Regions from separate parts of the Homo sapiens genome. Here region 2 is linked to region 1. Evidence: fine-mapped expression QTL. A gene starts in region 1. The other region holds a variant in brackets. All regions are shown on one strand. Distances are from middle to middle. Region 1 holds the start of EXOC3 (exocyst complex component 3). Region 2 overlaps SLC9A3 (solute carrier family 9 member A3).

Region 1 (5,366 bases):
TGGAATCCTCACACTGTTCATGCTAGGGGTGTTCTCTGTGCACTGCAGGAGTTGTTAGGACGGTAGAAATGTTAGGTACAAAACCTCCCCCAAACTATCAGGTGATCACAGTGGAGCTACAAGCAGAGCCTCTGAGATCATTAATCCAGGAAACCTCAAAGAAAGCTGAACTAGGATGAGGAACTCCTTGATAAGATAAACAAACCTTCGTAACACAAACATGCAGAAGTTATACCTTTAAGGGGAGAGCAGGGGCGTTTCACAGGCATGAGAGACATGGACATTGCGAAGATTCTAGATGTGGGTCCCAGACCACCCAGCATGTAGATGTCAGCCTCAAAGGCACATCTCTCCCCAAGACAGGGCTGGTTTCTCATTTCGGGAGCTTTCCCCCAGCACCTTGGCCAGGCCTGTGGGCAGCTGCACCAGGACCCTCAGTGAAGACAAATACAGCGTGGACAACTCCCCCGACCAGGTACCACAGCTGGAGGCCCAGCACAAGCCCCACAATTCCCACCCTATAAAAGTGACAATAGTCAGCCAGGCCCGGTGGCTCACGCCTGTAATCCCAGCACTTTGGCAGGCCGAGGCGGGTGGATCACGAGGTCAGGAGATCGAGACCATCCTGGCTAACATGGTGAAACCCTGTATCTACTAAAAATACACACAAAAAAATTAGCTGGGCATGTTGGTGGGTGCCTGTAGTCCCAGCTACTCGGGAGGCTGAGGCAGGAGACTGGCGTGAACCCCGGAGGCGGAGCTTGCAGTCAGCCGAGATCGCGCCACTGCACTCCAGCCTGGGCGACAGAGCGAGACTCCGTCTCAAAAAAAAAAAAAAGAAAAAAAAAGAAAAAGTCATTATTGTCTTGGGTATCCAAAACCCCATTTCCCCCTTTTTTAACTGTCCTAGAAAACATCATGCTTCCCTCCTTTATGCAGGCCCCGTGCAGACCACAGGTGCTCAGATGCCAGGCAAGCCTGCCTTCCATGCTCCCTCCACCATCGTCCTCCTCGGGGAGCTAACACAGCTGCTTGGTGAGCATCAGTCAATGAGGGAATCCGATACACCTGTTCCCCTTGACTTCAGCTGTCTGATTTTCATCTTCATGAATATTAAAAAGATTCACCTTCTCCTGGAATTTTTCATTCTCCATGCCCACATGCTTTCAGACACCTCTCTTCTCCTTTTTCATCTGGACCTACATTGCAACCTTTCCTTTCTCTTTATTTTCTGATTATGAAATTTGGCATACCAACGTAGAAAATCTGGACAGGACAAAAATACAAAGATGCCAGAGGCAACTCCCCTTAAATCCCATCATCTATGGGCAACTCCTCTTAAATCTTGCTACCCAGGGGCAACTTCCCTTAAATCTCACAATCCAGGGACAACTTCCCGTAAATCCCACCACTCAGGGGTAACCCCCGCTATATCCCACCACTCAGGGGCAACTCCCCTTAAATCCCGCCACCCAGGGACAACTCCCCTTAAATCCCGACACTCAGGGGCAACTCCCTCCAACAGGGCTTGTTTCCTTCCAGTTTTTTCCCTTTGAGTTTCTTTTAAAGCTAAGATTCCACTGCTTATATGACTTTGTAGGTGCACACTTTTGTTTTCTTATTTTGTTTGGACATTATCATCAGCATTTCCATTGACATTAAAGCCTGTATGATTTTGATTATAGGGCTGGATAATAACCCAAGAAGTGGACCCCCAGCCGCTCTGCTGGGGCACGCGGTGAGGTGGCTGCGCCCATCTTAAGGCTGGAGTGAAGTCTGTCACGCTGTGGGTGGAAGCCAAGGCAATGTGAGTGGAGAGCTGTGAAGCAGGGCTCGCCTTGGAGTCAGAATAAAGCTACTCATGTGGAAAAGGGGAAAATCTGGAGTTAAAAAACGCACCGCAGAGGCTTCCATCCCAGCCTGAAGACTAAAGATTTTGGGTCACAGAAGCCAAAGAGGAACTCAGAGACCATAAACAGAGACCCAGGTCCAGCCCCTACCAGGGCCTTTCTGACTGCCTTCCCCTGGCGCTGGCTCCGCTGTGAGCCTCTCCGCCGAGCGGGGGGACACCCTACTGCGGGGAACATCAGCACCCACGGAGACACCTGCGCCAGGGAGACACCTCTGCCGGGCAGACACCTCTGCCAGGAGGGACCCTTTACCGGGGGGACGCCTGCGCCGAGGGGAACACCTGTGCTGGGAGGCACCTCACGGAGGGGACACTCCGCTGGAGGACACCTGCACCTTGGAGGACACCTGCACCTTGAAAGCTTCCTAAAGGCCAGGAAGGACGCTTGTGCCCAGAAGGACACCTGCTCCGACGAGGGACACCTGGTCCGAGGGGGGACACCTGTGCCAGGAAGGACAACTGCGCCTGGGGGGGGACACCGTCAAGAGGACACCTGCACCAGGAAGTACACTTGTGCCTGGGAGGGACACCTGTGCTTGAGGGGACACTTGCACCTTGGAGAACTCCTGCGCCGAGGGGACACCTGCGCCAGGAAGGACACTTGTGCCTGGAGGGACATCTGCCCCAAGGAGGGACACCTGCTCCGAGGGGGGACACCTGTGCCAGGAAGGACACCAGCGCCTGGGGCGTGGGGGAAGACACTGTTAAGGGGACACCTGCACCAGGAAGGACCTTGTGCCTGTGGGGACACATGTGCCAAGGGGACACCTACGCCTGGGGGGGACACATGTGCCGGGGAGGACACCTGCGCCGAGGACACTCGCACGAGCGGGATACTCCACGGGGTCCGGAACGGCCTCCCCGCCCTCCAGGTCCCGGTCCGGCCTCCCCCTACGCGCCCCCGCGGAAGCCAGAGACAGGGAGAGCAAGGATGAAAGACGGCGACCACCTCCCAAGGACCCGCCGGCCGTCAGGACCTGCCACCGACTCACCCTCTACGGCTACGCCGCCGCCGCCGCCGCCGCCGCCGCCGCCGCCGCCGCCGCCGCCGCCCCCGCCGCCCCCTCCGCCTTCGCTGCCTCCGCCTCCGGGGTCCCGGCCGGAAGTGGACAGCGCGCGGGCACTTCCGCTTCCGGCAACGGCGCCGGAAGCACGGGTCCGGGCCCTCCCGCGGGGCGGGTACTCGTCTCCCGGCCGAGCGACTTCAGCTCGGGGACCTGCCCCATGGCCGCTCCCCAGCAGGACAGGGAAACCGCCGAGGTGGGGGGCTTCTTGTCCGTCCCAGCCCCCCCAACTCAGGCCCTCTCGCTGCCCCTGGCGACCACCGCGTGCGCCCTTCCCCAGGGCGGGCGCAGTCCTGGACGCCTCCGCCGAGCGTGACTGCGTGCATTTTCTCTCCTTTCCCTTCCCAACCTGCGGAGAGAAGACAGCCCCAGAGCCGCTGTCTCCATCCTCTGCTGATGCCTGCTGTCTTTATGTTGGCCTCGTCGTCCGCACTGCAGTGTGGCAGGGGCGTCCCTCGTTTCCCGCGGACTGAGGTGGGCGCCGGGCATTCAGTAAACGAAGAAACCAAAGCGGAGAAGGTTGGGAATCAAACGTCTGTCATACCTGCCACCAGCAGACAAGCGGCTTTGGGTACCTCCTGGACCCAAAGACGAACTCAGCCCCTCCAGGAGCGCAGTCATTGGCACCCTCGTGGGAACAATGCCAGTGGGATGGGTGGCCACCGGATGTTTCCGGGGCCCCTCAGAGGCCCAGCAGCGCAGGTCTTGGAGAATGAATGTGGGTCACTGGGCCGCGCTGCAGAGGGCCGGTCCTGAGTCGCTTCCTGGAGGAGAGGCCCATGGCCAGCACTTGGCTTCGCCTGGAGGAAGAAGCACGTGCTAAACCACGAGCGTTCAGGGTTTGTCTGTTTGATAAAAGATGCTGGCTTTGACACACCAACTGACAAAGTCTTTCATAGGTTGGAGCTGCTAGGTTGTGCCCCTGCCCCTCCTGAAAATTAGCCACACGAAAGGAAGGGTCTGGAAGGTGGCAGGGAAGCCAGCAGAGACCAGGGAAGTGGCAGCAGCATGGGGCAGGGGCACACAGGAAGGAGATGGAGCTTGCGGGAGCCCCCACTGCCACTCCGACAGGGAGCCCTGCCCCGTGCCCTGCTGATGTTGACACTGACCCCGGCTCTATTATTTCAGTTTTTCCTTGTAATTTCTGAAAATCTAGCAACAAGTTGAGCAATGAAAAAAAGTAAAAAAGTTAAAATTGTGTTAGAAATTATGACTGTAAAGAAATTTTGAAACTAATGAAGAAAAAATTGCCAAAATTGCCAAAGCTTTTAGGACTCTTAAAAATATAGTAACATTGAGTATTATGAACTAAAGACTCATACTATTATATCAGTGTCTGGTAGTGAATTTGGATGGAGGACTGTCTAGTAACTTCTTAACAAAACATTGATTAGAAGTCTTTCTTGGCGGGGCGCCGTGGCTCACGCCTGTAATCCCAGCACTTTGGGAGGCGAGGCAGGTAGATCATGAGGTCAGGAGATCGAGACCATCCTGGCTAACATGGTGAAACCCCGTCTCTACTAAAAAAAATACAAAAAAACTAGGCAGGTGTGGTGGTGGGCCCCTGGAGTCCCAGCTACTCGGGAGGCTGAGGCAGGAGAATGGCGTGAACCCGGGAGGCGGAGCTTGCAGTGAGCCAAGATCGCGCCACTGTACTCCAGCCTGGGCAACAGAGCGAGGCTCCGTCTCAAAAAAAAAAAAAAAAAAAAAAAAAAAAAAAAGGTATTTATTGGCTGGGCGCAGTGGCTCCTAACTGTAATCCCAGCACTTTGGGAGGCTGAGATGGGCAGACCCCTTGAGCCCAGGAGTTTGAGACCAGCCTGGGCAACATGGTCTTTTTGGTAGGAACCCCATCTCTACCAAAAAAAACCCCACAAAAATTAGCCAGGCATGGTGGTGCATGCCTGTAATCTCAGCTCCCTGGGAGGCTGAGGCAGGAGAATGGCTTCAACCCGGGAGGAGGAGGTTGCAGTGAACTGAGATGGCACCACTACACTCCAGCCTGGGTGACAGAGGGAGAATCTGTCTCAAAAAAAAAAGTTTCTTGACTTCTGTTTTTGGCAGACCATGTTCTGCGAACACCCAGGAGCACTGCTGAGTGCAAGCATCATGTCGATTGCACAAGTGGATTCACGAACAGGCAAGGACGTGACCAGGGACAAATGTGGGAAGGGGAGAGGACGTGAATCAGAAGCAGAGATGCTTGCCGTCCTACAGCAGGCAGGTGGGTGGGTAGGGTGCGAGTTCTGCGGCCCAGGGGTTGGGTTTTACACTGAAGCAGGACAGATGATGAAGCTAAGGCTCCCAGCAGGTGGGAGGTGGACGGCGACTCCCATGTGAAGCACAGATGTGCAAGGGATGCATCCTCAGTGAAAGCGTGGACTAGGAAAACA
Region 2 (5,366 bases), 46 kb before region 1:
CGTGTGGAACGCGGCCACCACCGGGCTGTCCCTCTACGGCGTCTTCCTCAGTGGGCTCATGGGTGAGTCTGCGCCACTGTTGCCCCGGCCGGGATCAGGGTGGGGTCCGGGAGGGGCGGCGCTGCCTCATCTCAGAAAGGTCGGGGTGCCGCACCCTGGCCTCCAGGCGGTAAGTGTCAGGTGAGAAACGTGGCTGGCAGCCCCGTAGGCCCTCGTGACCAAGGCCAGTCCCCTGCGCGTCCCCAGGTCCCAGCACGTGTTCTGCTTGGGGAGGAGTTCCCATCTCGGCAGCTCGGCTTGGGGGCTGCAGGTGGCCAGGGGCTGCCGCTCTTCCTCCGGCACTGGGCAGAGGTAGGGGTCCGTCCACACTCGCCGGCCACCAGGTCCCAGGGAGAGGAGGAGGACTGCAGAGCCTGGTGTATCGGGCACCGTCCCTCCCAGCCTGTGTGCCGGAGCCGCTCGGCCACCGCTGCAGCCACAGCCGGAGCCAGAACTGCTGCGCGGTTTTGGTCTTGGATGCTTCATCTCTCGGGCACTGCCTCCCGCCCCGGACCCAGACCACGCGTGGCTGGCGCCTCTCAACATGCCAGGTGCGGTGCAGCCCTGATGCCCGCCGCTGCTGCCGGGGATGCTACAGCTTTGACCAGGTGGGTCCAGGGACCTCAGGCAGAGCCTAGCTTTGACCAGCTGGGCCCCACGGCTGAGCGCAGGCCTCCGGCACCTGCCGCCCTCACCGGTCTGAGAACTCAGCCTCAAACAAATCCACCAGCTGAACCAGACTCACAAGAATTGGCGATTTTCCGTCTGGTTCAAGAGAGAGCACGGCCCGGCCTCTCCATGGGAATCAAGGGGCTGAAACCTGAGACCAAGGAGACGCATGGAGAAAGAGGAGCTCCCGGGTTGGGGCCGCCTCACCCAGCACGTGGTTCCTTGGCGCCTTCTCACCCCTCCCTGTAGTCCCTGCCGTCCAGCATCACCCACCAGGTGCAGCCCAGGGAAAGCTGCCGAGGGCACAGACAGGCTCATGGATGGCAGGCCCGTCACGTGGGCGATGCCATAGGTGGTCAGGACACACCTCGGATGGGGCAGCCGCCCTAGCCACCGCACCCAAGGGAAAGCCTCAGGGGTTGTAGCAGAGACTCCTGGACCCGCGGCCCCTCGAGGCTCACACCTACCTTGCCAGATGGCCCCTCGCCCATGAGATCCCAGCTTCCTCCCAGCTGTGTCGAGTGTGGGATGGAGTAGCCTGTGATCAGTCTGGCCGTCAGGGCCGCTCCTTTGAGAGCCGGGCACACTCCGTGGCTCTGTGGCCACGTCACAATGGTCCCCGCCTAGCATTGGCCAGAGACACTGCCGGATTTCCCTTGCACGAAGCAGAATGTCCTCGGTGCAACTGGCCGAGCCTGGAGGACGTCCTTGCTGCACCTGCACCATGAAGCCCTGGAGGACTCCCCACACCAGGACGTCACCCCTGGCCCTCCCCTGCCCCTCGCCACGCTGCACTCCACCCCTGCCCCTCGCCACGCTGGACTCTACCGTCCTCCAACAACGCTCCTCATGAGAAACACGTGTCCCAGGTATCGCTGTGCCCCCTGGGGCAGGCCGCTCCCCAGGTGACACGGATGCTGGAGGCCTGCGCTCAGCCTTGGGGCCCAGCTGGTCAAAGCTGGGTGCTGCCTGAGGTTCTGGAACAGAGATGCCCATGGCCGGCAGGTCCATCCCATTCCTGGGAGTCCAAGAGAGCTGGGAGGCTGCAACTGATCTCTGCAGACCAGAGGCCAAGCCCTGTGGAGCGTCTCAAGGCCAAACGTGCCCCATGGGAAAGGGTCGACATGGCAGTGCTGGCCCGGGGGCTGTCCGGGCAGTGTGGGGACAGGCCCTGCGAGAGCTTCAGGCATCAGAGGCCCTTGCACAGGCAAAGCACGTGGTGGAGAAAGGCCTGGAACATGCGGTCTGGTGGCATGAGCCCTCCTGGCACGGCCGTGGGCAACTGTCCAGACGGGAAGGCTGCCGGCCGGGGAGTCTGAACGCGGCCGACCCCAGGACATCCATGGGGGCCATCACTGCCCTGGGGGCGGCCGTGCCAGGAGGCCGCGTTTAAAGATGACCTTGAAGGGGATTCGTGTCCTGAGGCCTGAGTTTGGAAGAGGAGAAGGCTTGTGTGGTTCCCGTTCCAACATGGAACTTTAACTCCCTGAACGCTGGTTCTTCTGGCATCTGTCACTTCCTCGGGGTGTTGTGACACTGGCCAGAGGCTGCTGGGGCTTAGGAGCTCACAGCAAACTCGGGGTTTAGTCACCGCAGAGATGACCCTGATCTGTCCCCTCCCAGGCGCCAGCACAGAAACCCCTGGCCAGGCTGCTCTCTGCTGTCTCCTGGGGCCCGTCCGGCTCCAGGGACAAACCCCTCCTCAGCCCGAGCCTCAGCCCAGAGGGGTGGTGGGCTCCGCTCCAGCCCAGCAGAGAGGCAGCAGCTGTGCGGGGGGACTCGTCGGGGGCCTCCCCCTCCCTGGGTGGTCTCTCCCACACCCTCACGGCCCTGGCGTCTCCTGGTCCCTGGACCCTCACGGCCGGGAAGGCAGCAAGGAGGCCCAGTGTCCTCTGAGCCCTGCGGCCGTGAGAGAGGGCAGACTCTCGGGGCCACGTGGCCACACTCAGTTCCCTGAGGGTCCCCTGGAGCCTGGCACCCCCACGTGGCCTCCTCGAGGCCTGAACCCTGGGTTGAATGGCAAAGACTTGTGAAGGATAAGGCTGCATTTCAGTAAAACCTCCCCAGCGAGGGGCACCAGAGCCCACAGGCAGATGCGGGGAGGGAAGCCGGCCGGGAGCTAGGGACCACATGGACCCACGTCTTCCGGGCCCCCTTGCTCCCACCGCAGCCCTGCTCATCCCCACAATCTGCCCCCACACCCCCAACGGCCCTCCCACCTGCCCCTCCCTGGCCGCGCCCCTGGGTGCTGTGTGTCCCGGCTCCGGGCCCGTCCTGGGTCAGCCCCACTTGCTTCTCCTGGGCTGGGACGCCACTCCAGGC[G/A]ATGGGCCCCCATCCCTCCCCAGCATGCGGTGCCCCTGCACCCACCTGCCTCCGTTCACCCAAAGATGAAGGAGAGGGCCAGGGCCAGGGTCAGTCTGTCTGTCTGTCTTGCTCAGATGGGGTGGCCCCCTCGGAAGACAGCAGCCTTCCCTGGAGGGGGCTGGGGGTCTGTGGGAGGGACGCAGGAAGCTGACCCAGCTCCCCACGCCACCGGCGCCAGCCAGACGGGCTCCGAACCCCGACCCGTAGGCGAGCGCCTCCCCAGGGCCCTCCTCCTCGGGTGGCAGGCCCTGCAGCTGCCCCGCGGCCCGGCTTGTCTTCCAGGCGACCTGCAGATTGGGCTGCTGGACTTCCTCCTGTTTGGCAGCCTCATGGCGGCTGTGGACCCGGTGGCCGTCCTGGCCGTGTTTGAGGAGGTCCATGTCAACGAGGTCCTGTTCATCATCGTCTTCGGGGAGTCGCTGCTGAACGACGCAGTCACCGTGGTGAGCAACGGAGCCACCGCTCCAGAGCGGGCGAGCCGTGGGAGGCCTGGGCCCCGTCTCACCCCCCATCGGTCAGTCAGCAAAGGAGGGCGTGAAACCCTGTCCTCAAACTCCCCTCCCGGGGGCGTCCCGTCCCTCCACCTCCTTCCTCCCAGCTCAGAACGACTGGCAGCTTTCGCGAGGCTTCTTTGTATCTTCCACAGTTCCCAGGCCCTGCCCGCCCACTCCATAGCTTCAGGGTTAATGATGGCGCTGTTGAAATCCCGCCCTCCTGGTCCCCAGAGCGTCTGTGACTTTGGACCCACAGTTACTGCCACCCATTCCTGAGTTCCTAAAAAATACATGAGTGGCCGGGTGCGGTGGCTCACGCCTGTAATCCCAGCACTTTGGGAGGCCGAGGCAGGTGGATCACCTGAGGTCAGCAGTTCGAGACCAGCCTGGCCAACATGGTGAAACCCCGTCTCTACTAAAAATACAAAAATTAGCCAGGGGTGGTGGCACGCGCCTGTAATCCCAGCTACTGGGGAGGCTGAGACAGGAGAATCACCTGAAACCAGGAGGCAGAGGTTGCAATGAGCCGAGATCGTGCCATCGCACTCCAGCCTGGGTGACAGAGTGAGACTCCATCTCAAATAAAATAAATACGTGAATAGCAAACAACAAAATCCCATAGGAACCACGTAATCTGCCAGGGCCGCCATGACAAAGTACCGCAGGTGCAGTGCCTTGAACGACGGTGGGTGTCAGTGTGGTGGGTGTCAGTGTGGTGGGTGTCAGTGCGGTGGGTGTCAGTGCGGTCTGGATCACGGTGTCAGTGTGGTGGGTGTCAGTGCGGTGGGTGTCAGTGTGGTGGGTGTCAGTGCGGTCTGGATCACGGTGTCAGTGTGGTGGGTGTCAGTGCGGTGGGTGTCAGTGTGGTGGGTGTCAGTGCGGTCTGGATCACGGTGTCAGTGTGGTGGGTGTCAGTGCGGTGGGTGTCAGTGTGGTGGGTGTCAGTGCGGTCTGGATCACGGTGTCAGTGTGGTGGGTGTCAGTGCGGTGGGTGTCAGTGTGGTGGGTGTCAGTGCGGTCTGGATCACGGTGTCAGTGTGGTGGGTGTCAGTGCGGTGGGTGTCAGTGTGGTGGGTGTCAGTGCGGTCTGGATCACGGTGTCAGTGTGGTGGGTGTCAGTGCGGTGGGTGTCAGTGTGGTGGGTGTCAGTGCGGTCTGGATCACGGTGTCAGTGTGGTGGGTGTCAGTGCGGTGGGTGTCAGTGTGGTGGGTGTCAGTGCGGTGGGTGTCAGTGTGGTGGGTGTCAGTGCGGTCTGGATCACGGTGTCAGTGCGGTGGGTGTCAGTGCGGTCTGGATCACGGTGTCAGTGTGGTGGGTGTCAGTGCGGTGGGTGTCAGTGTGGTGGGTGTCAGTGCGGTCTGGATCACGGTGTCAGTGCGGTGGGTGTCAGTGCGGTCTGGATCACGGTGTCAGTGTGGTGGGCTCCTGCGGGACCCCGGTCCTGGACTTGCAGACGGTGCCTTCCCGTGTCCTCACGTGGCCGTCCCTGCGTGAATGTGCCCGAGTCGCCTCCTCTCACAGGGACACGGGTCCTATTGGATCAGGGTCCACCCCGGTGACCTGACTGTGCCATACTCCCCTTTTTCACGCTCACATGCCCAGGTCCTGGGGACTTTAACATGGGAATTTCGGGGGCACAATTTGGCCCATGACAGAGGTGAAGGGAGGGAAACTGAACTGGTGCTAACGGCAGAGCCCGGACGGTGTGTGGGTGTCCCTGGAGGAGATGGTGTTCCGGGAGGCGGGGACGGTGCCTCCACAGAGGCCCAAAGGCCACATCAGCGCTCAGTAAGGCCAGG

What was found. PIP is the estimated chance that this variant, and not a neighbour inherited with it, causes the effect.
Region 2: its variant is the best candidate, but not a certain one, in a credible set for the expression of EXOC3 in lymphoblastoid cells (GEUVADIS, PIP 0.66).

Annotation. Positions count from the first base shown.
Region 1 is chr5:440,826-446,191 of GRCh38, reverse strand. It overlaps EXOC3 (exocyst complex component 3), which reads right to left and starts at 3,016. Exons shown (of 13, transcript NM_007277.5): 1 at 2,902-3,016; 2 at 1-42. It overlaps EXOC3-AS1 (EXOC3 antisense RNA 1), which reads left to right and starts at 3,032. Exons shown (of 1, transcript NR_126522.1): 1 at 3,032-4,357. RefSeq lists enhancers at 2,352-2,441, 2,492-2,621, 3,392-3,501, 3,522-3,571, 5,155-5,214 and 1 more and a silencer at 2,922-3,311.
Region 2 is chr5:486,465-491,830 of GRCh38, reverse strand. It overlaps SLC9A3 (solute carrier family 9 member A3), which reads left to right. Exons shown (of 17, transcript NM_004174.4): 2 at 1-62; 3 at 3,355-3,515. Among named protein-coding and RNA genes, the nearest start is that of SLC9A3-AS1, 16 kb to the right of the region's middle. The variant G/A (reference allele first, on the strand shown) is at 3,031.